Linked DNA regions of Homo sapiens. The protein of the gene in region 3 interacts with the protein of the main gene of each other region in a biochemical or structural test. Each region holds a gene or a part of one and is shown on either strand. Other genes may lie near its edges. The genes, in order: MAF, ERC2, MYB and ZMYND11.

Evidence for each region.
Region 1: the proteins of MYB (region 3) and MAF form a complex in vitro, tested with the Homo sapiens proteins (one study listed by BioGRID).
Region 2: the proteins of MYB (region 3) and ERC2 form a complex in vitro, tested with the Homo sapiens proteins (one study listed by BioGRID).
Region 4: the proteins of MYB (region 3) and ZMYND11 form a complex in vitro, tested with the Homo sapiens proteins (one study listed by BioGRID).

Annotation. Positions count from the first base shown.
Region 1 is NC_000016.10:79,593,338-79,598,398, reverse strand, and holds the end of MAF (transcription factor Maf), read left to right. Parts: exon of another isoform or gene 1-3,845; coding exon 3,846-3,939; 3' UTR 3,940-4,561; downstream 4,562-5,061.
Region 2 is NC_000003.12:55,507,696-55,514,013, forward strand, and holds the end of ERC2 (ERC protein 2), read right to left. Parts: intron 3,582-6,318; 3' UTR 616-3,581; downstream 1-615. UniProt on the Homo sapiens protein: Thought to be involved in the organization of the cytomatrix at the nerve terminals active zone (CAZ) which regulates neurotransmitter release. Seems to act together with BSN. May recruit liprin-alpha proteins to the CAZ.
Region 3 is NC_000006.12:135,190,941-135,198,601, reverse strand, and holds part of MYB (transcriptional activator Myb), read right to left. Parts: intron 6,279-7,661; coding exon 6,044-6,278; intron 4,765-6,043; coding exon 4,684-4,764; intron 4,247-4,683; coding exon 4,142-4,246; intron 3,643-4,141; exon of another isoform or gene 3,521-3,642; intron 2,855-3,520; coding exon 2,600-2,854; intron 1,877-2,599; exon of another isoform or gene 1,694-1,876; intron 1,642-1,693; coding exon 1,279-1,641; intron 1-1,278. UniProt on the Homo sapiens protein: Transcriptional activator; DNA-binding protein that specifically recognize the sequence 5'-YAAC[GT]G-3'. Plays an important role in the control of proliferation and differentiation of hematopoietic progenitor cells.
Region 4 is NC_000010.11:250,357-255,700, reverse strand, and holds the end of ZMYND11 (zinc finger MYND domain-containing protein 11), read right to left. Parts: intron 3,354-5,344; coding exon 3,231-3,353; 3' UTR 1,064-3,230; downstream 1-1,063. UniProt on the Homo sapiens protein: Chromatin reader that specifically recognizes and binds histone H3.3 trimethylated at 'Lys-36' (H3.3K36me3) and regulates RNA polymerase II elongation. Does not bind other histone H3 subtypes (H3.1 or H3.2).

The DNA.
Region 1 (5,061 bases), on a different chromosome or scaffold from region 3:
TTCATGTGAAACGTTGATCACCTTTGAAGCCTGCATCATTCACATATTTTTTCTTCTTCTTCCCCTTCAGTTCATGAACTGGTGTTCATTTTCTGTGTGTGTGTGTGTTTTATTTTGTTTGGATTTTTTTTTTTAATTTTACTTTTAGAGCTTGCTGTGTTGCCCACCTTTTTTCCAACCTCCACCCTCACTCCTTCTCAACCCATCTCTTCCGAGATGAAAGAAAAAAAAAAGCAAAGTTTTTTTTTCTTCTCCTGAGTTCTTCATGTGAGATTGAGCTTGCAAAGGAAAAAAAAATGTGAAATGTTATAGACTTGCAGCGTGCCGAGTTCCATCGGGTTTTTTTTTTAGCATTGTTATGCTAAAATAGAGAAAAAAATCCTCATGAACCTTCCACAATCAAGCCTGCATCAACCTTCTGGGTGTGACTTGTGAGTTTTGGCCTTGTGATGCCAAATCTGAGAGTTTAGTCTGCCATTAAAAAAACTCATTCTCATCTCATGCATTATTATGCTTGCTACTTTGTCTTAGCAACAATGAACTATAACTGTTTCAAAGACTTTATGGAAAAGAGACATTATATTAATAAAAAAAAAAAGCCTGCATGCTGGACATGTATGGTATAATTATTTTTTCCTTTTTTTTTCCTTTTGGCTTGGAAATGGACGTTCGAAGACTTATAGCATGGCATTCATACTTTTGTTTTATTGCCTCATGACTTTTTTGAGTTTAGAACAAAACAGTGCAACCGTAGAGCCTTCTTCCCATGAAATTTTGCATCTGCTCCAAAACTGCTTTGAGTTACTCAGAACTTCAACCTCCCAATGCACTGAAGGCATTCCTTGTCAAAGATACCAGAATGGGTTACACATTTAACCTGGCAAACATTGAAGAACTCTTAATGTTTTCTTTTTAATAAGAATGACGCCCCACTTTGGGGACTAAAATTGTGCTATTGCCGAGAAGCAGTCTAAAATTTATTTTTTAAAAAGAGAAACTGCCCCATTATTTTTGGTTTGTTTTATTTTTATTTTATATTTTTTGGCTTTTGGTCATTGTCAAATGTGGAATGCTCTGGGTTTCTAGTATATAATTTAATTCTAGTTTTTATAATCTGTTAGCCCAGTTAAAATGTATGCTACAGATAAAGGAATGTTATAGATAAATTTGAAAGAGTTAGGTCTGTTTAGCTGTAGATTTTTTAAACGATTGATGCACTAAATTGTTTACTATTGTGATGTTAAGGGGGGTAGAGTTTGCAAGGGGACTGTTTAAAAAAAGTAGCTTATACAGCATGTGCTTGCAACTTAAATATAAGTTGGGTATGTGTAGTCTTTGCTATACCACTGACTGTATTGAAAACCAAAGTATTAAGAGGGGAAACGCCCCTGTTTATATCTGTAGGGGTATTTTACATTCAAAAATGTATGTTTTTTTTTCTTTTCAAAATTAAAGTATTTGGGACTGAATTGCACTAAGATATAACCTGCAAGCATATAATACAAAAAAAAATTGCAAAACTGTTTAGAACGCTAATAAAATTTATGCAGTTATAAAAATGGCATTACTGCACAGTTTTAAGATGATGCAGATTTTTTTACAGTTGTATTGTGGTGCAGAACTGGATTTTCTGTAACTTAAAAAAAAATCCACAGTTTTAAAGGCAATAATCAGTAAATGTTATTTTCAGGGACTGACATCCTGTCTTTAAAAAGAAATGAAAAGTAAATCTTACCACAATAAATATAAAAAAATCTTGTCAGTTACTTTTCTTTTACATATTTTGCTGTGCAAAATTGTTTTATATCTTGAGTTACTAACTAACCACGCGTGTTGTTCCTATGTGCTTTTCTTTCATTTTCAATTCTGGTTATATCAAGAAAAGAATAATCTACAATAATAAACGGCATTTTTTTTTGATTCTGTACTCAGTTTCTTAGTGTACAGTTTAACTGGGCCCAACAACCTCGTTAAAAGTGTAAAATGCATCCTTTTCTCCAGTGGAAGGATTCCTGGAGGAATAGGGAGACAGTAATTCAGGGTGAAATTATAGGCTGTTTTTTGAAGTGAGGAGGCTGGCCCCATATACTGATTAGCAATATTTAATATAGATGTAAATTATGACCTCATTTTTTTCTCCCCAAAGTTTTCAGTTTTCAAATGAGTTGAGCCATAATTGCCCTTGGTAGGAAAAACAAAACAAAACAGTGGAACTAGGCTTCCTGAGCATGGCCCTACACTTCTGATCAGGAGCAAAGCCATCCATAGACAGAGGAGCCGGACAAATATGGCGCATCAGAGGTGGCTTGCGCACATATGCATTGAACGGTAAAGAGAAACAGCGCTTGCCTTTTCACTAAAGTTGACTATTTTTCCTTCTTCTCTTACACACCGAGATTTTCTTGTTAGCAAGGCCTGACAAGATTTAACATAAACATGACAAATCATAGTTGTTTGTTTTGTTTTGCTTTTCTCTTTAACACTGAAGATCATTTGTCTTAAATAGGAAAAAGAAAATCCACTCCTTACTTCCATATTTCCAAGTACATATCTGGTTTAAACTATGTTATCAAATCATATTTCACCGTGAATATTCAGTGGAGAACTTCTCTACCTGGATGAGCTAGTAATGATTTCAGATCATGCTATCCCCAGAAATAAAAGCAAAAAATAATACCTGTGTGGAATATAGGCTGTGCTTTGATTTACTGGTATTTACCCCAAAATAGGCTGTGTATGGGGGCTGACTTAAAGATCCCTTGGAAAGACTCAAAACTACCTTCACTAGTAGGACTCCTAAGCGCTGACCTATTTTTAAATGACACAAATTCATGAAACTAATGTTACAAATTCATGCAGTTTGCACTCTTAGTCATCTTCCCCTAGCACACCAATAGAATGTTAGACAAAGCCAGCACTGTTTTGAAAATACAGCCAAACACGATGACTTTTGTTTTGTTTTCTGCCGTTCTTAAAAGAAAAAAAGATAATATTGCAACTCTGACTGAAAGACTTATTTTTAAGAAAACAGGTTGTGTTTGGTGCTGCTAAGTTCTGGCCAGTTTATCATCTGGCCTTCCTGCCTATTTTTTACAAAACACGAAGACAGTGTGTAACCTCGACATTTTGACCTTCCTTTATGTGCTAGTTTAGACAGGCTCCTGAATCCACACTTAATTTTGCTTAACAAAAGTCTTAATAGTAAACCTCCCCTCATGAGCTTGAAGTCAAGTGTTCTTGACTTCAGATATTTCTTTCCTTTTTTTTTTTTTTTCCTCATCACAACTAAGAGATACACAAACTCTGAAGAAGCAGAAATGGAGAGAATGCTTTTAACAAAAAAGCATCTGATGAAAGATTTTAGGCAAACATTCTCAAAATAAGAGTGATATTCTGGATGTAGTTATTGCAGTTATCTCATGACAAATGAGGCCTGGATTGGAAGGAAAATATAGTTGTGTAGAATTAAGCATTTTGATAGGAATCTACAAGGTAGTTGAATATAATAAGCAGGTTTGGGCCCCCAAACTTTAGAAAATCAAATGCAAAGGTGCTGGCAAAAATGAGGTTTGAGTGGCTGGCTGTAAGAGAAGGTTAACTCCTAGTAAAAGGCATTTTTAGAAATAACAATTACTGAAAACTTTGAAGTATAGTGGGAGTAGCAAACAAATACATGTTTTTTTTTTCTTACAAAGAACTCCTAAATCCTGAGTAAGTGCCATTCATTACAATAAGTCTCTAAATTTAAAAAAAAAAAAATCATATGAGGAAATCTAGCTTTCCCCTTTACGCTGCGTTTGATCTTTGTCTAAATAGTGTTAAAATTCCTTTCATTCCAATTACAGAACTGAGCCCACTCGCAAGTTGGAGCCATCAGTGGGATACGCCACATTTTGGAAGCCCCAGCATCGTGTACTTACCAGTGTGTTCACAAAATGAAATTTGTGTGAGAGCTGTACATTAAAAAAAATCATCATTATTATTATTATTTGCAGTCATGGAGAACCACCTACCCCTGACTTCTGTTTAGTCTCCTTTTTAAATAAAAATTACTGTGTTAGAGAAGAAGGCTATTAAATGTAGTAGTTAACTATGCCTCTTGTCTGGGGGTTTCATAGAGACCGGTAGGAAAGCGCACTCCTGCTTTTCGATTTATGGTGTGTGCAAGTAAACAGGTGCATTGCTTTCAACCTGCCATACTAGTTTTAAAAATTCACTGAAATTACAAAGATACATATATATGCATATATATAATGGAAAGTTTCCCGGAATGCAACAATTAGCATTTTAAAATCATATATAGGCATGCACATTCTAAATAGTACTTTTTCATGCTTCATTGTTTCTCTGGCAGATAATTTTACTAAGAAGAAAAATAGATATTCGACTCCCCTTCCCTAAACAAATCCACGGGCAGAGGCTCCAGCGGAGCCGAGCCCCCTGGTTTTCTCGTAGGCCCTAGACGGTGTTGCATTTATCAGTGATGTCAAACGTGCTCATTTGTCAGACATAGCTGTAAATGAAAACAATGTGTGGCAAAATACAAAGTTAGTTAAATACACACCCTCTGTGTGATTTTTTGCTCCCTTTTCTTTTTTGCTCCTACTCAAAAAAAAAAAAATCACCTCCTTTACATTTCCCTGGCTTCTTGCATGTTTCCCTTTTCAAAAACCATGTAATAATTTTTTACAATGTATCTGACACATTAATATATTGACATCAAATAGGCAGACATTCTACTTTTGCCTGGCAAATAAATCTGCTACGGAGACATCATTTCCTCACTGTCTCAAAGCCATAACTACCTGGGAGTCTTTCAACACAGACCCCTCCGATGGGAAATGCTGTTTATTACTGAATGCAGGATGCTCACGCTCTGATCTTTTCTCCCTTGTGCCTTTACCCCAGTCATTTTTACTTAGCAACACCAATTCTAGATACTTCTGTTCTGAAGTAGAACCACCCCCTTGCCACACTGCCAGTTTTCCTGCTAAAAGCAGTGGACAGAAGACAGATCATGGTCACCCTCACAAACATGGCACACAGCTGTCTCGGTAGCTG
Region 2 (6,318 bases), on a different chromosome or scaffold from region 3:
ATTGTTTGCATGATCCAAAAAAGAATCACCAAGTGTCCCTTTAGGGGACAGATGTAGATGTAGCTCAGAGAGTTAGTCTCTCCTCTAAAAATCAAAAGTACTCAAAGCTGTTGGAAGTCATCTTTACAACCAAGTGGAGAGAGCTTACCAGAGTCCAAAGCCAACCCAATAGAAAGTGCAGAGGGAAACAGGGAGAGAAGAAGGAGGGGAAAGGGAGAAGAAGGGGAGAGGGAGGGAGAGACAAGAAAAGGGAGAAAGAAAAAGGGAAGAGACAAAAGATGAGAAGGAGGAAGAGAGGGAGGGATCAGGAGAGACAGAGGAAGAGATTGAGAGAGTGAGAAAGAGAAAGGTAAAAAGAGAAAGGAAAGAAGAAAGGAAGAAGGGAGACAATGACAGTAACTTAAATTTCCTAATGTGAACTTCTGATTTTCTAATTTGAACCTCTAGATCCAGTTGTACATAAAGGAAGACTTACGTCTTTGCCTTTCCAGTTAAATGAGCCAATGACTTCCCTTTTTACTTAAGTCCATAGGGTTCTTCAAATGGGGATCCATGACCCTCAAAATGTTAGAAACTGCACAATTGGAGCATTTATTAGAGATAGAATGAACTCACTTCAGAAAGAAACAAGGTTTATTTGATGAATATAAATAAGGCGATCAGCACAAAGTACTTCTCATACACATGACAACAAATTTATGAACTGTACATACCTTGTACATTGTTCTACTAGACACGAGGTTACAATGACTGGCTAATACATGCCCACTGGTAGTTTCCAGGGTTCCTTAGTTTTATTTATTTATTTTTCATATCGATGTCCATAATCACATGGTCAATATCACAACCCACATGCCACTCACTTGAAGAAATATTACAAGAAGCACTATCAAACGAGGGTCTCGGGGAATTAGATACACTGACCCTGGGCAGCATTCAATCGCCACTCTACACAAAAACATTGCAGATAGAGCTTACGTCAACACATCTGAGGTCTCGTCATAAACACTGTTTAAAAAGTAAATTGAAACCCACTTTCAAATGAAAGTTGACACGCTGTTAACGTGCATACTGGATACACAAAAATCATTAAATACAAAATTGAGACTGTACATCGAAATCAAATGGGGTATAAAGCACAAGCCTGCTTTTGCACAAAGTAAGACCAACTTCTCCTAAATGTTAGCCCAAACTTCTTTTTTCAACTATGTTATGATTAGAAGAAAACCTGTTAAAGTTTGCGCAAAGGAAATAGCTTCCCAACATCACAGTGTTTGTTGTAAACCCAGAGACTATTCTTAATATGTGAAAAAGGGATATTTTTGGTAACCCCCAAACATCAGAGAATATTACACGAAATGGGAAAGGTTGTTATGTTAGAGAGAATTTAATTTTTAAGGGACTAAATTATACGACCTCATAAAGGTAAGATCAGTAATATTTTAACCAATGAAAGTTGGGCAGAAAATGATCCCTCCAAACAAGAGCTGTGACAAAATTGGCACATACATAGAAATAGCTAGCTATACATGGGTTGGTTTTTTTTTTCTGTTTCAAGGACCCTATTTTCCCTACTGGATTTCCTACTTCCTACTTCAAGTATTCAGTTGCAGAGTTCAGGTCAAGACCTGGTTGTAGGAGGCAGTGAGAACCACTTCTTTGAGGACATCCAAACTGTTCACTGGGACACATTTGTGGCCTGGGTTTTCAGTGCAACATTGTGTCAAAATGTGCTAAATAAGCTTGCAAAGAACTCTGCTTACTTCTCTAACCAAGACCTAGATCCCTCTGATAGTTAAAGGACAAACTTTTAAAACATGAATGCATTTGGATTGTTTATGCAACACATAAGCATTACATAGTTTGTTATACTTACTGATGACAAGAACAAAGCCAGAAGCAAGAAACCTGCTTGAGTATCTTAACCGCGAATGCACCAAGAAAGAATGGTGCAACTCAGGGACGGTTTCATCTTCCCCGACAAATAAGGTGTTTGTCTTTTAAATATCTCTATGGCTCACAAGAGAGGTCCAGAGTTAATTGCACCAACATTTTAAAAAGTAATAATAATGACTAAATTCAATGCAAGACTTCAGGGACATCTGTTTAGAATCCTTTCCACAGCAGCAAAGAAAGACAACTATATTTATTAAGGCCACTCATGCTTAAATTCACTGTTTGTCCTTTAAAAATGCAGGTTTTCATCTCCCACTTGCATACACGTGGAAGGGTTTCTTCCATTGACAAGAAAATGGAGCAATACAAGAGTTGCACATGTTTGCCAGACTCAGTCATGAGTTTTATGAAGTTATAACAATTTAAATTGTTTCTTAATATTCAGAGGAAGCAGTAGGAGTTTAATTCTCCTTAGTACCATATCACTGTATGTAAAAGACCTCAAAATTTGGTCTTTTTCCCTGGCATGTGCTTTAAATAATGACTGTATCCACATACATGTTGTGTAGAGCTATATACAGAGACACAGCTTTTGTGATTGTTCCTCATTCATCAATGTTTTCATGTTTGATGCTGAAAATGCTTTGGAATCCATGTTGCAGACACATTTTCTTTAAAAAAAAAAAAAAAGAGAAATGACCCTTCATTTACAGAAAATCTAAGCTTACACTGTTTGCACAGCATTTGGATCTTGAAATGTGAATGAGTCCCAGCTTCTTCATGGAGACCTGCATGCACCGGGATGGTAAGAGTCTGAGGCTTGGTGGCGTCCCCACCGTGGGGATGTGCAGAACACAGGGACTAGAGATATGCAGGTGCCTCAGACTTTTGCCACTCTCCAGTACATGACTGGGTAGATAAAATTATGAATGATCAATTTAGATGTGCCACGCATTGTCAGAGACACACACCATGTTCTCATAAGGCGATTTCTTGGCAAGCATTAGTGGTTTAAAAAATTGATTTCTTTTCCAACCTGGCCCAGAGGTGACTACTGGTTACACCCTCAAAATGCGGTTCTTCAAACAACAGATTAAAGAAATAGAGGAGGGTAAAGGCTCGCAATTTTTGGTGTTTTTTGTTTCTTCGTCAAACACTCCATGCATCATGGTATACAAACACTGCCAACACCACTCACTCACAGCGAATTTATACTTTTTGATAATCTAATGCATTAGGAATGACCAATTAGAGTGAACCAGCAGGATACTGGAGATGAGGCTAGTTGTCCAACAGAAGCTGAATCCACAGATAAAATCCCATGGAGTTCAAATTTATCCAATGATGTTTAAGTAACATAAACAAAATGTTATCAAATAATGACATTCAGCAAAGATGATCACATTCAAAATGCCCGCATCCCAACAAAAATGGAGGATCTGTCACTTTTCTCCTCCTCTGCATTCTTCCTTTCCATCATAACCAAATCCATGAGAAATGACATGAGGTGGTGAAGGAAATATCAAGTAGAACAGAATCACGCTCAATAAGGTAAGTGAAAACTCCCCTTCAGTTCTGATGAGCCGCTCCAGGTGGTGGTGGACAGTGATGTGAGCCGCACTGCAATACATTATCAGAATATTGCTGCAGAGCTGCATGTTCCCTTTATTCAGCCCTTCTAATAGCTGCAACAAGAAAGCACATAATTTAGCAGGGGAAGAAACTGGCAACAATATCTGAGATAATCCTGGCAGAACGTTTCCCACTCTTCACCCCTACAACAGCCTCTCCACCACTCTCAATGGTTGGGGTTGGGTGGGAGTGGGGAGGGGGTAAGGGGAAGAAACACAGAGGAAGGACAAAGGAAACAGAAAGATAAACTACGTCCTGCAAGTGCATCTGAGAAGAGGCCTCTTTCAAAATATGTCACGTATATGTATAAATGTCTCTTGATATACAAAAAAGGAAATTGAAGGGAAATATGCCAAAATGTTCCAGTGATTATTTCCACATAATCGGACTATATGTCAACTTTTATTCTCTCTACGCTTTTCTACAATGATGATGTTTTTAAAATTATTTTTTAACTTGATTTTATGGAGATTAAAGAATTAAAGGTGGTTAAGATATCAGAGAACTTAGCATGCACTTAAAAACCAACCAAACATAAATGTGACAGTCATCCATTTGTCTATTTACTGCCCTGGGGAACAGGTATCCAGAAGCACCCCAAGGTTTCTCACTGTCCCAGTGAGGGGCCCAGAGTGTGGATACAACTGCATCCTGGGAAGCAATAGTGCAATGAGTGAGAAGGGGGATCCCTCCCACACTACTGCTTCAGATGAGGACTTTCTTCCCTGCTGATGCTCAACTTTGTGTGCCTGTGCCATTATCATTCACATATGGCCTGTGAGTGCTTCTGGGTTTCCAGCCACATGAGCTCAGCTATCTGGGAAATATGGCAGGGAGAGGAAAGATCAAACATACACACACACACTCGTGTACACACAAGTCACCTTGTATATATATCCTGAGCTGTCTCATTTGGTGGTTGATATGCAGCATTTTTCGAGTCACGCCGACTAACAAGAATGCCAAAGATCCCAGTGTCTGCACAGGTAGCCAGCTATTTCAAGCCATCGTTAAGTAGTGCAAATGAAATATGTGGCTTGGATGAACTCTGCTAATTCATACTCTGAGGACTTTGGTGTAACCCTTCTGGTTAAGAAACTTGAATCGGGGCAAAAAAATGACTTTTGCAGAGCCAGAAAGTTAGGGAGTTCCTAGAGCAGATCATATTACTCATTCTGGCACATAAACTCTCTGCAAACTTTGTATGAAAATTGTAAGTCAGAGCACGCTTTCTGTTTCATGAGCTGTGCATAGCTCTAATTCTTTTGTGCATTAAGCATTTCTTAATCATCCTTTTAAAGGGCTGACCAATATATTAAAAGGCCACATGATTAAAAGGTAAAGAGAAACCCTAAGTAGTATTAAAATGCACCAGTCTTTTGTTTTGTTTTGTTTTACAGATGAAAAATAATTACAGTGAATGTCTGATGTCCTTGATGTTTTTCCAAGATAAAGTAGCAAAGAACAGTCATTTATTCAGTTGTGAGAAAGATTTCCAGCTGGGCAGCAGGTCACAAGGCAGAATACAATGCCCCACAATTGCAGCAAACTGCTTTTGGGTAAGGTTTATGCTGGAGACAAGAGAATTCTCAAAAAGTGTAGCCATTCTTTCAATCGAACAATCCATTCACCAGGAGGCCTAAATGGCTTTAAGGAAAAAAAGAAAAACAACAAGGAAACCTCAAGTGACACCGCCAGCATTTAGAAATGCAGATGATCCCTTCTGGGGGGGCAAAGAAGCATATGCTTTAAAAATAAAAATAAAAAACGAATCCTGGCTTCCAGCAATGAGCCAATCTGGGCTGCCACCCACTGTGAGATGATCCCTGGCCAGTCCTCCCTCACCTGGACAGTCACAGCGGCCCTTACCCTTCTCCAGCTTCCTCTTACAGCACCCAACTCTGCGCTTTCAACGCAGCAGCCAACAACAGCGCCATTTCAATGGTGACATCCAGTCCATAGTGCATTCCCGTTTACAGTTTACAACTCCTGTTTACAACCCTGTTTATAATCCCGTTGCCCTGAGAATGCAGGACTGATGGACTCCTGGCCATACTGGCGAGGCCCCATCTGGCCTCTCTCTCTGCAGTCCTGTACTTAACGCTGACATTCCACTCTTTATGTTCCACCAAAGCTGAGCTTGCTTCTGCAGCCCTAAAAATTTATTTTCTCCCCCTCTCACAAGCGTGTCTCTCTATCTAACATGATTTACACCAGCTCTTTATCTGATCGATCCCTGTTTATTCCTCAGTTTCAGCTTGGATGTCATGTCTTCCCAAGAAGCCTTTCTTGACCCTCTCGGATGTGATATAGAGTGGGAAGTCTCACATATACTGCAGAGTCCCCTTCTGATGAATTGTCTAGACTTGTACATCCAATAGAGCGTGTGTGCATGTATGTATATATATATATACATATCTTTTATTTTAAGGCAGGGTCTTGCTGTGTCACCCAGGCTGGAGTGCAGTGGTGTGATCATGGCTCACAGCAGCCTCGACCTCCTGGAATCAAGCAATCCTCCTAGCTCAGCCCCTCAAGGAGCTAGGACTACAGGCACATGCCACCATGTCTGGCTAATTTTTGTATTTTTTTACAGAGATGTGTTCTCACTATGTTGCCCAGGCTCGTCTCAAACTCTTGGGCTCAAGTGATCCACCTGCCTCAGGCTCCCAAAGTGCTGGGATTACAGGAATGAGCCACTAAACCCAGCCTACCAGTTTAGAGAGTACCTCAGGTAGGCAGAATCCTTAAATCTACTCCTTATCCAAGATTCCCTATCCGAATCCCTGG
Region 3 (7,661 bases):
TTTAAAAGGCTTTAGTGATTTTGGGGAAAATAATAGTTAATAATTAATAGTTTCCTTTCATACTTTGTTTTTTCTCTTTAATAATCTATGAACCAAAATTAGTATTACAGAAGGTTTACATTATATGGAAAATTCTTGAATAATAAACTGTGTCTCTCAGAACACTAAAGTTCTGGGAAAAAACTAGGTGTTCCTTAAACAATTCCAAGGTAAAATAAATTTGGGAAACACAACATATCATAATCTCCTCCTGGAAATTCACAAGGCACAACGGCATATTAATAACTCTGAGAAGGCCTGCAGTTAAAAAAAAGAAAGTTTTTAAAGAAATGGGATCTCGCTATGTTCACCAGGCTGAACTTGAACTCCTGTGCTTAAGCAATCCTCTTGCCTTAGCTTCCCCAGTAGCTAGGACTACAGGCCCATGCCACTATGCCCAGCTAAGAAACCTACTTGTAACTTTGTTTGATTCAGTGTTTCCCAAATGTATATACCTATATCATACCTAAATCTGTTCTTAAAACAAATTCAACAGATACAATTGGAAAAATGTTTTAAAGTGCCAAATTATCTATTAATTTAATTATTTAAATAATTTAGGAACACAAATCTCTGATAAGAATTGTGATTTTCATGCCTTAAAAAAGCTGTATGAAATAAAAATATTCCTTGGCAAAAACTGCACTAGTAAAATAGTATGGCACAACTCAAAAGAGCCAATGTTGAGAAACTGAAATTAAAAATATGTTCTTTTCCTTAAGCATTTGTTTCTCATCCTCTTCCCAAACTCTTCCATTTAAAGATGAATTGGAACCTTTAAATTTTCTAGCTTTAAATTTTCTAGTTGCAACCCAAATGTTATATAAACACAATTTGGTTCCCTCCTCCCCTGGGTCAGTGAATCGCATAAGAATAAATGAACAACGAGGAAGAAATGATGTTAACAATTTTAAAGGGAGGGATCAGATGGGAGAAAAAGAAAGGGACAGAAATGTTAAACTCTAGTGTTGAAGGAAATAAAAGTACGTTTCATGCAACTATCTTTCAAAACCACCCAAAAGTAAAAGAGAGAGAATGATGCCAAAATCAACAGTTAGCCTGCAGACAGCCTAAACTTTGGGAGGCAGTATAACTTAGCAACAGCTAGATTCAACGACAGAATGAAATCAGCAAAGGCAGCAGTAATTAGTCATTTGTTCCGAAGTATTAGTTTCTAGATTATTAAGGCTCAGGTGTCTGTTGAAAATGAGTAACAGCTGTGCAGAAATTGTGTTCTACCTGCGAGGGAGAGAAGGGTAGGCTTTTGACAGGGGAACGCTTGGGAGTTGAACTGCTGACGTCAGCAAATATGAAGGAGCTACAGTCTCCAGTGGCTAAGGGGCTGGCCTGGCCCCGTTTTTTTCGAAGGATGACCAGTGGAATTGTGCTGTGCCTTGCAGGAGGTAAGACCTTGGGTGGGTCAAGTGAACTCTCACTCAACATACGTTTGTTCACCCTTGGGCTAGGTTCTCCTGCAGGTTTAGTCCCATTGCCCTCTCTTTGCTGAAGCTGTAGGGCTTTGCCTGTGTGATGTTGGCTAGGTGAAAAATCTGCTTCTTCAAAGAATTCAAAACTGCTGAGATCACACCATGATGAAGAATCCTGAAACAATGTGGGAGGCACAGAACTTTGAGATAGTGTGTGCCATCATCACCTGAAACAGCACTGAGAGAGAGATGCTCAACGCAAAGCAAACACTAGGCCCGTTGGTTTGGCTTCTTGAGCAACAGCTTCAAGATGAGCAGTTGCTCTATTATACTGCAGTAGAGCAGGGTCTAGTGGGCTGCCTCAAGGCTGGCCCTCTGATGTGCTGCAGGGACCTCCCGACACTCTACATCTGCATGCAATGGAAAGCAAAATGAAGACCTTTTCTAGATGGCATATTACGGCAATGGTCATCTCCTAACCAATGAGTGTGCAATAAATGATTTTTAATCAACTGGGAAAGGAACCAAGTGTTCGCTGAGGAGGTGCTGAATACAAATTTGTTTCACGAAAGATGATTCATCTCAGTGAAGCAATGGGACCAGTAATCAATAATCACCATTTTGTGGAAAGAGCCAGGTATGACCAAGGAGCTGATTATTACTTCAAATACACTAAAAGATTGCTTTCAGCTCTGAGTAAGCCAAATCATTAATGTGCTGTTCAAAAGCAAGACAAAATTCTAGAGAAGCACCATGAAGTAAGCAAAGAAAAAAAAAAGTTAAAAGTAACTCAAACACCATTCCGTTCCCATAATCCAAGCTCTGCTTTATAAGTCATCAATCTGACTATTTTTAAAAATATGACTTTTGAAGGAAAAGTGTGAAAATGTGAAAAAAAACTCTTCCTTCAAAAGTCCTATTTTGTAAGTATTTATAAATACTTTTGTCTCTCTCGGTAGGCTATGAAATCAGATCTTTGAAAAAACATATTCATGAAGATGAAAATCATACTTCTACCTTTACATTAATATATGCTAATAACAGCTTGGCTATAGAAAATGGCAATGATTTAAGAAATGGGTTTTCTAATTTATCTTCCAGAATCGTTAACTTCCCTTCACAATTCTACTTACAGAATCTATAAATTGGAGTGTTTCTGCAAATTCTAAGAGGTTCTTAACATTATCCAGAATGGTGCCCTGGTGGACGATCATGCACCTTGCTGGCGAGGCGCTTTCTTCAGGTAGGGAGCCAGGATCCGCTGGCAGAGATGGAGTGGAGTGGTGTTCTCCCAAACAGGAAACAGGTGCACTGTCTCCATGAGGTCTGGTGTGGTCGGCAATGGTGGTGCTGTGCCACCCGGGGTAGCTGCATGTGTGGTTCTGTGTCTAAGGAAGGGGGAAGGGTGTAGAAATAAAGAGAGGACAGAAGAAAGGGAGAAGGAACTTAGCAATGAAGTTGCACAAGGTATCAGATGCTGTTGGAGGAAAGATAAGAGTAGTTGCATCATCCCAAACTTACGCCTATGAAACAGTTGTCAAGATGTTTCCTTTTATCAATGCAAGACCCTGTTTTTAATAGTGCTAGAGGTTGTACCTATATGATTACCTTGTTATCATTTTGTAAAAATGTCAAATCATAGGTCTATATTTCGAAGTATAATTATCATATTGTCTTAAAATTCCACTTTAATATAATTTGCCAAAGGTCCATAAATGCTTGCTGTGAGTGAAGAACTGAAGAACTGTCCTATTTGCATTCTAACCACAAAAAAGCTAGAGGACTCAGGAGTTAGAGTTGCTTTGATCTACACATATTCTTGTTGCTTCTATCCCTTTCTAATGCTACAGATTGCACTGATGCAGTGAAGCACTGCCAAATCAACGTGGTTAGGAAAGCAGAAGAGCAAATTAACAGAAGTCTCCTTACAGTATGACCACACAACAGGAGAAATTGCAAAACATTAACTAAAGTTAAAAAGTGGTCGAACTAGCATGTGCACATAAACATCTTATTATTTAACAAAAAATAAATTTACCCCTAGGAATACCTACTGGGCATCACTTCTCTTTTATTGTCTTTGTTGGTTAACTATGTATGTTGCAAAGCACAAGGAGCCATCCCAGTTGGCTGCCCAGTCGCTAAAGATGTCAGAATTCAGTAATGGCCCACATAACTTTCACACATGCAAATAAAAGAGAGCAGCTAATGTTATTTATGAAGAGGTTTTATATATAACCTTTTACATGTATATACTGAACATGCATCAAATCATGTCTGAAATTATAAAATATGAAAATATAGGTTAACAAAATAATAGAAAAAAACCAAAATGGTACCATATAGATACATAGCTCTGTAGAAAATGCAGATTTTCATTCATTTTATCTTTGCTAGTCTTTAAACTGATTATAGTCCTTCTGAAGAAAAAAATTGATGATAACAATCATAAGTGGATATTGCATTTTTATTGCAATTACAAAAAGACTGCTTCCAATTTAATCAGCATATAATCTGATACCAACTACATTTTACTACAAGCAACTTCTTGTGTTGAGACATTCTGAATGGATATATGGAGCCTTGCTAAGTGTAATATTTAGAAGAGAAGAGCGCTTAGGTAAACTGAGGCAAAGCTGCTATCCCCTCATTCAAGCACATGATGACAGTCTTACTGGTAGCACCTGCTGTCCTTTTAGCTCATTCTCGGTTGACATTAGGAGCAATTCTAATTCCTTTATTCGCTTTTCCTTCTCAGGGTCTTCATCATTATAGTGTCTCTGAAATTACAAAGTAAGGGAAATAAAGACAAAGGTCTGATTGGAAGCTGCAAATACAATGGGTGTAGCCAATATGGTCATGAGGTGCCGCACAGCCCAAAGAGCCTCACTGTGACAACACCACCAACCAAATTTGGCTCCTGCAGAAATCTTTGTGAATGTTATTTCAGACTTAAGGGAGTGATGTGAAATCTCAGGCTAGAGTGGATGCTGACTGATGAGTTATTTCACCTTGCAACATCAAAGAATCAGAAAATTCCAGAGCAAACTCATTCTAGAAGACAAGATTAATAGATTGCTGGCCAAGACTCTGCTCTCCTCTCCATGTTCCCTTTCCTTTTTACTTTAGTTGCTCAGGTAAAAATATGTGTTTAGATGAAAGAAATAAGCATTTCTTAAAAGTGGTGCTTTGAACAGTGAATGATCAATGATCTTACCTGAATGGCTGCGGCAGCTGGCTGAGGGACATTGACTATATTTACATGTAACGCTACAGGGTATGGAACATGACTGGAGACCTAGATGCAAAAGACAAAACAAAGGCCACGTCATTCAGGGCTACATATGCTTCAGGGGACTTGGCTTCCTGAGGTTTCGTTCTGGGACTGAGAGAAAAAAAACACTTTACTGATAAAATACACTAAACAAATTTTTAAAACCTTTTAATGTGAAATTTAGCCAGGCCTTTAAAATGGCTAAACAGCTAAAGGAACATGGTGAAAAATCCTTGGGAGGTGTTGATGAGCACTTTAAATTTTGGGAAGTGTTCCTTAATTAGAGAAAAACACAATGAAAAAAACAATAAAAAATATATTATAAAATACATTAATGAATGTTTCAAAATTGTTTCTATGGGAAAAATTGATGGCACCAGCTGTTTGTAAATAAAAATATTTTTCTTGGAATAATTTTGAGTTTTAATAAAAAGCACAGGAATTCTTATGATAATTTATTCATCTGAGACCTTTCTGTAAAGTTTGTAGTCAAATCCATGGACAGAGAAGAATAAAAACTATTTATGAACATGTTTTGCATATAATTTGCATATGAGCTCTCTATTCTTGGGTAAGTTTTATCATTTAATATTGTTATTCTTAAGATTAAAGTTTCTCGATTTTTTTCCTCTTTCTTCTTCTTTTTCCACCTATTATGGATTATCACTTTCCCTAAATATAAATATCTAGAAATAAGGAAGGGATCACACTGATCCAACGGAGACTAAAAGGAGACATCAGAAAATGAATGTCACAAAGTTCTGCTCCTGACTCAGAGTAAGAAGGTAAACACTTACTGAGTGAATAAATTAAGACATGTCTGCCTGATCACTGCCAGAATGAAACATACCATAACCACTGAATTTCAGTGTCAAACTCTCTCCTCTTTAAACATAATACTACCTTCCCTTTTCGTTTTGGAAGAGAAAAACATTACATCTACAAATGCGACTCCATTCCCCTATTCTTCAATAGTACCTTAAGTAAATTTACATTCAAAGGTTGCCTTCAAATTAGATTTGAAGCAGCAATTTAGAATCGGACAGCTCGTTTTCTAGTCAGCACTATCTCTATGAGCTGTGTCACCCTGGGCAAAGCGCTTACCATCCTCGTTTCTGGAGACATAAACCAGGGGTAACACACCATACCTACACCCTATCTACTTCAAAGGGCATAGGTGAAGACTGGCCATGATCATGCTCAGGAAAGTTCTCTGAAAAGTATACAACTGCAAAGTATGATTATTACCTGGAGCTAAACTAACCGTCTCTCTCATTAAACTAGATTCACAGGAATGGCTTACATTTTGTGCTTCAGAAATGTGGTAATAGGAATAGTCGTTGTTAACAGTGGGCTGGCCAGTGGCAGGGAGTTGAGCTGTAGGCGGAGCCTGAGCAAAACCCATCAAATGACTGTTCTTCTGGAAGCTTGTGGCCACTGCTGGCTGGCTGGCTTTTGAAGACTCCTGCAGATAACCTTCCTGTTCGACCTTCCGACGCATTGTAGAATTCCAGTGGTTCTTGATAGCATTATCAGTTCTGCACAGAAATATATCACACAAATTTCACAAACAAAAATTTCAATTCAGATTAAAGTGAATTGACAGAAAACTGTTTCTAACAGAGACCTTTCCCTTGGGCCTATTAGTTGTTTTCTCTTTTTAATTGTTTCCTTCTTCTCCACCCTCTGAGATCAGGCTTTCTCTATTGCCTAGTTAGATTTCTCTTAGTTACACAATCTGGAATGCATGTCGTTTTCTAGAAATATCAGTATCTTTTAACCATTCCATTTCCTTGGTAAAGGAGTATTTTCAATACGATAACGCTTCATGTTTATTCTGACCGGTCGCGGTACAAGACTCCAACACAATGTAAAGTTCCAGCTGCCTTGGGGAAATTACTCCTTTGAATGTGGCACAGCAGGGCCTACACACCACGAGAGGGACATGGTGAAGTCTGGTGGATGATAAGATGCTGCTGATGAAGAATACTTCACTCTTTATCTCTCAAAGCACTAGTGAGAACTTCTGAGACCAAAAAACCTCCTACTCTTTGAAAGCCACCCCAATTGTTTTCTGAATCAGACAGAGACGAGAGTGGAAAATGGGATCCCAAAGGGAAAGATCCTAACCCCCAGTATATTTTCAAAAGGCAACGCATTTTTACTAAAGTCTTTCCATTCTCAGGAAAACAGTTTCTCAATTCAAAAAAACCGTTTAAGTCTCCCTTTTTCTATTTCAATGGGGGTGGGGGAATGTATGCTAAAGAAAGAGGAAGTTCAATAGCCCTGTTAATTTTGAGAAGAATCAGCAGTGTATCCTCTCAGGCCATATGGGAGGAAAGGCCTTTTTTTACCAACCTCTTAAAATTTCTAAGTTTATACTGAACCACAAGGGTGCAAATGCTTTGGAGCATCACTAGAGAATACTATATAAACTTTCTCCTGGATTATGAAGCTCAAGAATAAAACTATTTTTAATATTTTTGATCTACATCATTTTAATGCAAGATTTATCATTAAAAGTATTGCTTTCCAAAGGAACAAAATCTGTTATATACTACTTAAGTGGGAAAAATGGGACAAAATGAGCTTCCATAGTTATCCCTCATAATGAGGTCATTTTCTTGCCTTGTTCATTAAAAAGAAAGCATTATTACCCTGACATTATTTAAAAACCTGGAAGTAGTATGAGAATTCAAGAAATACATTATTTCTTTAATCAATGAAGTAAAAAATTAAGCAAAGTGGTATAATGAAATGAATACTGGTGGCCAGGTATGGTGGCCCATGCCTATAATCCCAGCACTTTGGGAGGTGAAAGGATTGTTTGAGGCCAGGAGTTTGATACCAGCCTGGGTAACATAGCAGGATTCCATCTCTACAAAAAATATTTTAAAATCAGCTGGGTGTAGTGGGGTGCA
Region 4 (5,344 bases), on a different chromosome or scaffold from region 3:
TATTATAGATATGGGTTTCATATTTGTCAGTTGGAATTTTTTTATTGAAAAGACTTTTAGAACACAATTCTAATAATTAAGGTCTAGAATCAGAGTTGGCATTTCATAAAATAACAAGTGACACTTTTTTTTTTTTTGAGATGGAGTCTCGCTGTGTTGCCCAGCCAGGCTGGAGTGCAATCGGGTGATCTCGGCTCACTGCAACCTCTGCCTCCCAGGTTCAAGAGATTCTCCCGCCTCAGCCTCCCAAGTAGCTGGGATTACAGGCACCTGCCTTCATGCCCGGCTAATTTTTTTTGTATTTTTGTACAGACAGGGTTTCACCATGTTGGCCAGGCTGGTCTCGAACTCCTGACTTCAGGTGATCCACCCACCTTGGTCTCCCAAAGTGCTGGGATTACAGGCATGAGCCACCACGCCTGGCCGACACCTCATTTTTGAGGACCAGTAAGCCTGTTGCTTAGGAAAATATATCTAGAAGAACAAAGACAAAATGAGGGTGAATAGAATGATACTACTACTACTGTTGGAAACTTTACAATCCTACAGGAACTGGGACTTTAATATTCAGACCTAAACCATCTGATCCCAGTTGTGATACGTCTATCACATGAATGATGAATGATGGCATGAATGATGAAAACCAGAGTACCGACTAAGGCTGGGTTAATGTTGGCACTAAGACCTGGGGCTGGTCAACTACCCACAACTACCATACCAAGAAGTAGATGAAAACAGCAGAGGGTTAGCCTCAGCTGGCCTCCAATTAAGAATCTATTCCATTCTGAGTTGTGTATCTGTTTTTCAGGCTGATTTGCAATAATTGATATGCAGCTGATATAATAATCATCCTCTCCTTATTATATCATGTATGGTCTTTTTGAGATCTGGTGAAAGTAAATTCAATTTATACGTTTAAGTGAACAAATGATGTTTAACACACTGATTTTATATAAAGTTAAGCAGTCACTAAAGAGTGACCCACAGTATGTGATCAACATTTAGCGACGGTAGTATTTGGTTGGGTATAGGGGACTACACTAAATAAACAAATTACTAAAGCTAGTTTTTTTTAAATACATTTATTAACCAATGTTAACACATTAAATGAATCTATATATTGCTAGTCAGAGCAGCTTACAAAATGCCAGAATGCATCATAGAACTGGACAGCCACAATGAATAATTACAATGTGCATAGTGGCTAAGCTCAACACCTCGATATAGCTTTATGATTTGCAGAAAATTTTTAATAATGATTCCTAAAACAATCAATTGTAATTTTACCTAAAACTTTTACAAAACCAGGCCACAATCTCTTTTTTTAATTTTGTTTTTTTTTAAACACACAGTTTTCACGCTGTAGTAACTTGGAAATGTGCAACCGTGTCAACAGAGACAGAAAAGCCAAAGTAACACGAATCTCACTTTCATGCAGCTATCAGTTAAATATTACATACTCTGGAATGATTTTACACCAAAAATATTTCCACAATTACTTGCTCTCATAGGGGTGGATCGAAGTCTTAAAACTTGAAAAACAATCAAAGAAGGTTAAGTGTTCTCGGTTCTGACATCTCCATCAGCGCCACACACTGTGGCAACACTGACTAATTACACAGCAACAAGGAGGGAACGATGATGCCAAGTTACTGCATAATTTAGGTACATTGTATGAAATGGGGCTACTGGGTACTTTTTACAAAATATTGTGCACCATTTGGCAGTAGTTTGTCAATTAACTTGTGTCACCACCATCTGCAACAGCATCAAGATTAGATGGATGATATTTCACAGAAGACTTAGTTACATTTTTATCTTTAGAGTGACCCTGACAAACCTGGAGAATACTTTTTAAAAGGCTTTTCTCCTGATTCTTTCACTTCCATTGTGAGTAATTGCTTTAATAAATATCAAAGGTCTAAATAAATATGTACAAATTATTCTCTAACCTCAAAAAATAACTAAATGATAAATGGGAATTTGACTTGGTCTAAGATCAGTCTTTAAAAATACCACATAAATTGTGAGATATTTTAAAAGAAAAGTAATTTAAGTTTTCCTGGCTGTATTTTATATATCTATGTATAAAAAATCATTATTCAACTATCGATCCATTCCTATTGGTAATGCTTCTTAATCCAGACATTCCGCAAAATACAGACTTTTTACAAATCACGGCATCTTTAATACAAGAAAATTAACATGCATTATTCTTCATTCTGTGTACAGTGATGGAGTTCATTAGTAGGCAATGACCCATTACTACAAACATAACGGCTTCTGTGAAACTTAAGTGCTTTCTCTTCTTTTAGTATTAACTTACGATACATGAGGTGACACCAGATAATAGGCAGTGAGATGATATGTGGGAAGGGAAGGGAAGCATTAAACAAATTCGTATGCCTCATCTATAATTTCACATATGGATAAAGGTAGTTTTTGGCTTTGTTTTTGTTGTTTATTTTGTTACAAGCACTCATGTTAGGACAAAGATGAAATGTGCAAACTTTAAAATTTAAATATTCATTTTCTCTAAGATCCAGCTCAGTAAAAGATTACCCCAGTTCCCTGCAATTTTAAACTACAAGATCAAAGCTAATAATTTGTTATAAAAGTTATATATTGAAAAGAAATAATGAAAAACACAATTGGGAAATATTTAAGAAAAAATATGCAGGACTAGCCCTGCTGTGTCAACCCTGTTCCCTAAATTCAATCATATACCCACTGGTGTGACCAACAGATAATGCCTTTGAACAGTAAATTAAGCTGAACAAAACCAGCTCAACAAGGTTAAGAAAAAAATGTCACATCAAGGTAGTATGTTTTATTTCTGAAACAGTTCTGTAGTTCTTACATTCAGATCTATTCTAAATGTTTCTTTGTTAAACTCACTTGTATTCACCTGTTTTTTAAAGATCTGTTGTTTAAAGGTTAAAATCTCTGTAAAACCTAAAAATGTTTTAAAATTTGCTGAAAATGCAACAAATTCTCAATTAAAATTTATTTAAAATAATACCCTCCACTGATGTTACTTTTACCCCCTGAAAAACTTCGGAGGAGCATTAACAAAAGATTTAAACTACTGTGCAAAATTTCTTCACGAAAAGTGTTTAAAGGCTGGTGCAAAATGGGAAGCAAATTCTAAACAATTTTGGCTTCTTGGAAACAAAAACCGCTGTGTCTGAAAAGAGTAATCATCGGGGTGACTCCGGGAAGGGCCAGCTTCATCTTTTCCGGCGGCAGGTGCGCTTGTGCTCCGCGTGCCAGTGCTCCTGCTGGCACTTGATGGAGCAGTAGGATGTGTTCCAGCAGCAGTGGTACATGGCCTCCTCCTCACAGTTGTAGCACTGCAGGTAAGAAATCGGGGCAGTCTTTAGACTTGGGTGTGGATGTGTAAGCGACTGGTTAAAATGGCAAACTCTTGAGGTGGTGCTTTTAAAAGATCTTTCTGGCTCAACCTTTTGTGGAATCTGAATACGTTTTATGCACAGCAGATGGAAAGGGAGCCCTGGGGATGACTGCAGCTCATGCCTGGTTGTCAGCAAACTCAAGCTGCTGTCAGGTGGTACCTGACACCTCCCGTTTTTTCCATCTCTGTGAGAGTCATTCCCGTTTCTTTTCTTAAAATGCTCTTGACTTCACATCCCTTTCCAGCTACCACTTGCATTTCTCTGCTCCCCACAAGCTCCTTGAAAGACTTGCCTAAACTCCCTATTTCAAATTCTTCTCTCGTCGTTAACATACGCTGCAGTCTTTACTCATACCATGCCACTAATATGCTGCTAGCAGGGTCACTTACAACTTCAAATCTAGTGGCCAAGTCTCAGTCTTCATCTTATTTGGCAATGTCTGGAGATATTTTTGACTGTCACAACTTAAGGGCAGAAGGTACTACTGGCAGACAGAGGCCTGGGATGCTGTTAAACATCCCACCATGTACACCTCCCCCAAAGAATGTTCTAGTGCAAGGGTCCATATACCATGGTTGAACTCTTTGGTCATGGGAGAAGAGAAGAGTGAAAAAAGTAAAGCTAAAGTTCCAAGCTGGGTTGGTGAACTAACAGTAGTACCATGAACAGACACCCACAGTGAGGCAAGGAAGATGAGAGACCTTCTGGATGTAAACAAACACTTGACAACAGGTCAGTATAAATATGAAAGTTCTGTAGATAGACACATGCAGATCTGACGGCTGTTGAGAGCCCTGGAGGAAGAACCCAGGGAGACTAGCCTACATTTGATACCTAAACATTCTAATTTCCTTCCTGTGTATTGTGTGCATTATTATCCATTATGTCAGCAAGTGCACCTTCAGAAAAATCCCCATTAGGTGCAGAGTCAGTTTTGGAAACGGCTTGGATGAGGCGTGTCGGGATTCACATCTGGGGTCTGTGCCACCCACTGGTCATGTGGCTTCAAGTTATTTAACTTCTTAGTTTCCTCATCTTTCAGACTTTACACAGCACCACCATCCCTTCTCCCAAATACCCTATTATTTCGTTTTCAATTTCTCCCTTTCTGGGGATATATTTAATGGATACATCTATCTGTGTTTCTCGTGACATCCATTATTCGGCATCTGGCATACCTACATGCTTTCTGTCCTATAATACTACTCTATTTCTTACAACAATGTAAGATGTAATTGGGAAGAAAGAATTCTTGATTCTTTGAGAGTGAGTCTCGCTCTGTCGCCCAGGCTGGAGTGCAGTGGCACAATCTCAGCTCATTTTGATCTCTGCCTCCTGGGTTCAAGAGATTCTTCTGCCTGAGCCTCTCAAGTAGCTGGGGTTTCAGGCACACACCACCACGCCCGGCTAATTTTTGTATTTTTTGTAGAGATGGGGTTTCACCATGTTGCCCAGGCTGGTCTCAAGTGATCTGCCCACCTCGGCCTTCCCAAGTGCTGGAATTACAGGTGTGAGCACCGAGCCTGGCCGAGAAGAAAGAATTCTAACCCTTTTACTAGAATGTGATGAGCACAAAAAGCTCAGCTCTGCCAACTAGGTTTTTAATCATTCTATTTAATCTCATAAGCCTCAAATTCTTCATCTTAAAGAAGAGTACAAAAATACCCACTTTAGCTGTTTCACAAATGGTAAAGTGCTACAAAAGACAGTATTATAATTATAGCCTCTTCTTCCCATTTTCTTGATTCTTTAGTAAACTTAAGAGATTTCTACTCATAAGAATTTTTTAAGAGACAGGGTCTTGCTCCATCGCCCAGGCTGGAGTGCAGTGGTGCAATGACACCTCTCTGCAACCTTGCACTCCTGGGCTCAACCAATCCTTCCACCTTGGCCTCCCAAAGCACTGGGACTACGGGCATGAGCCACTG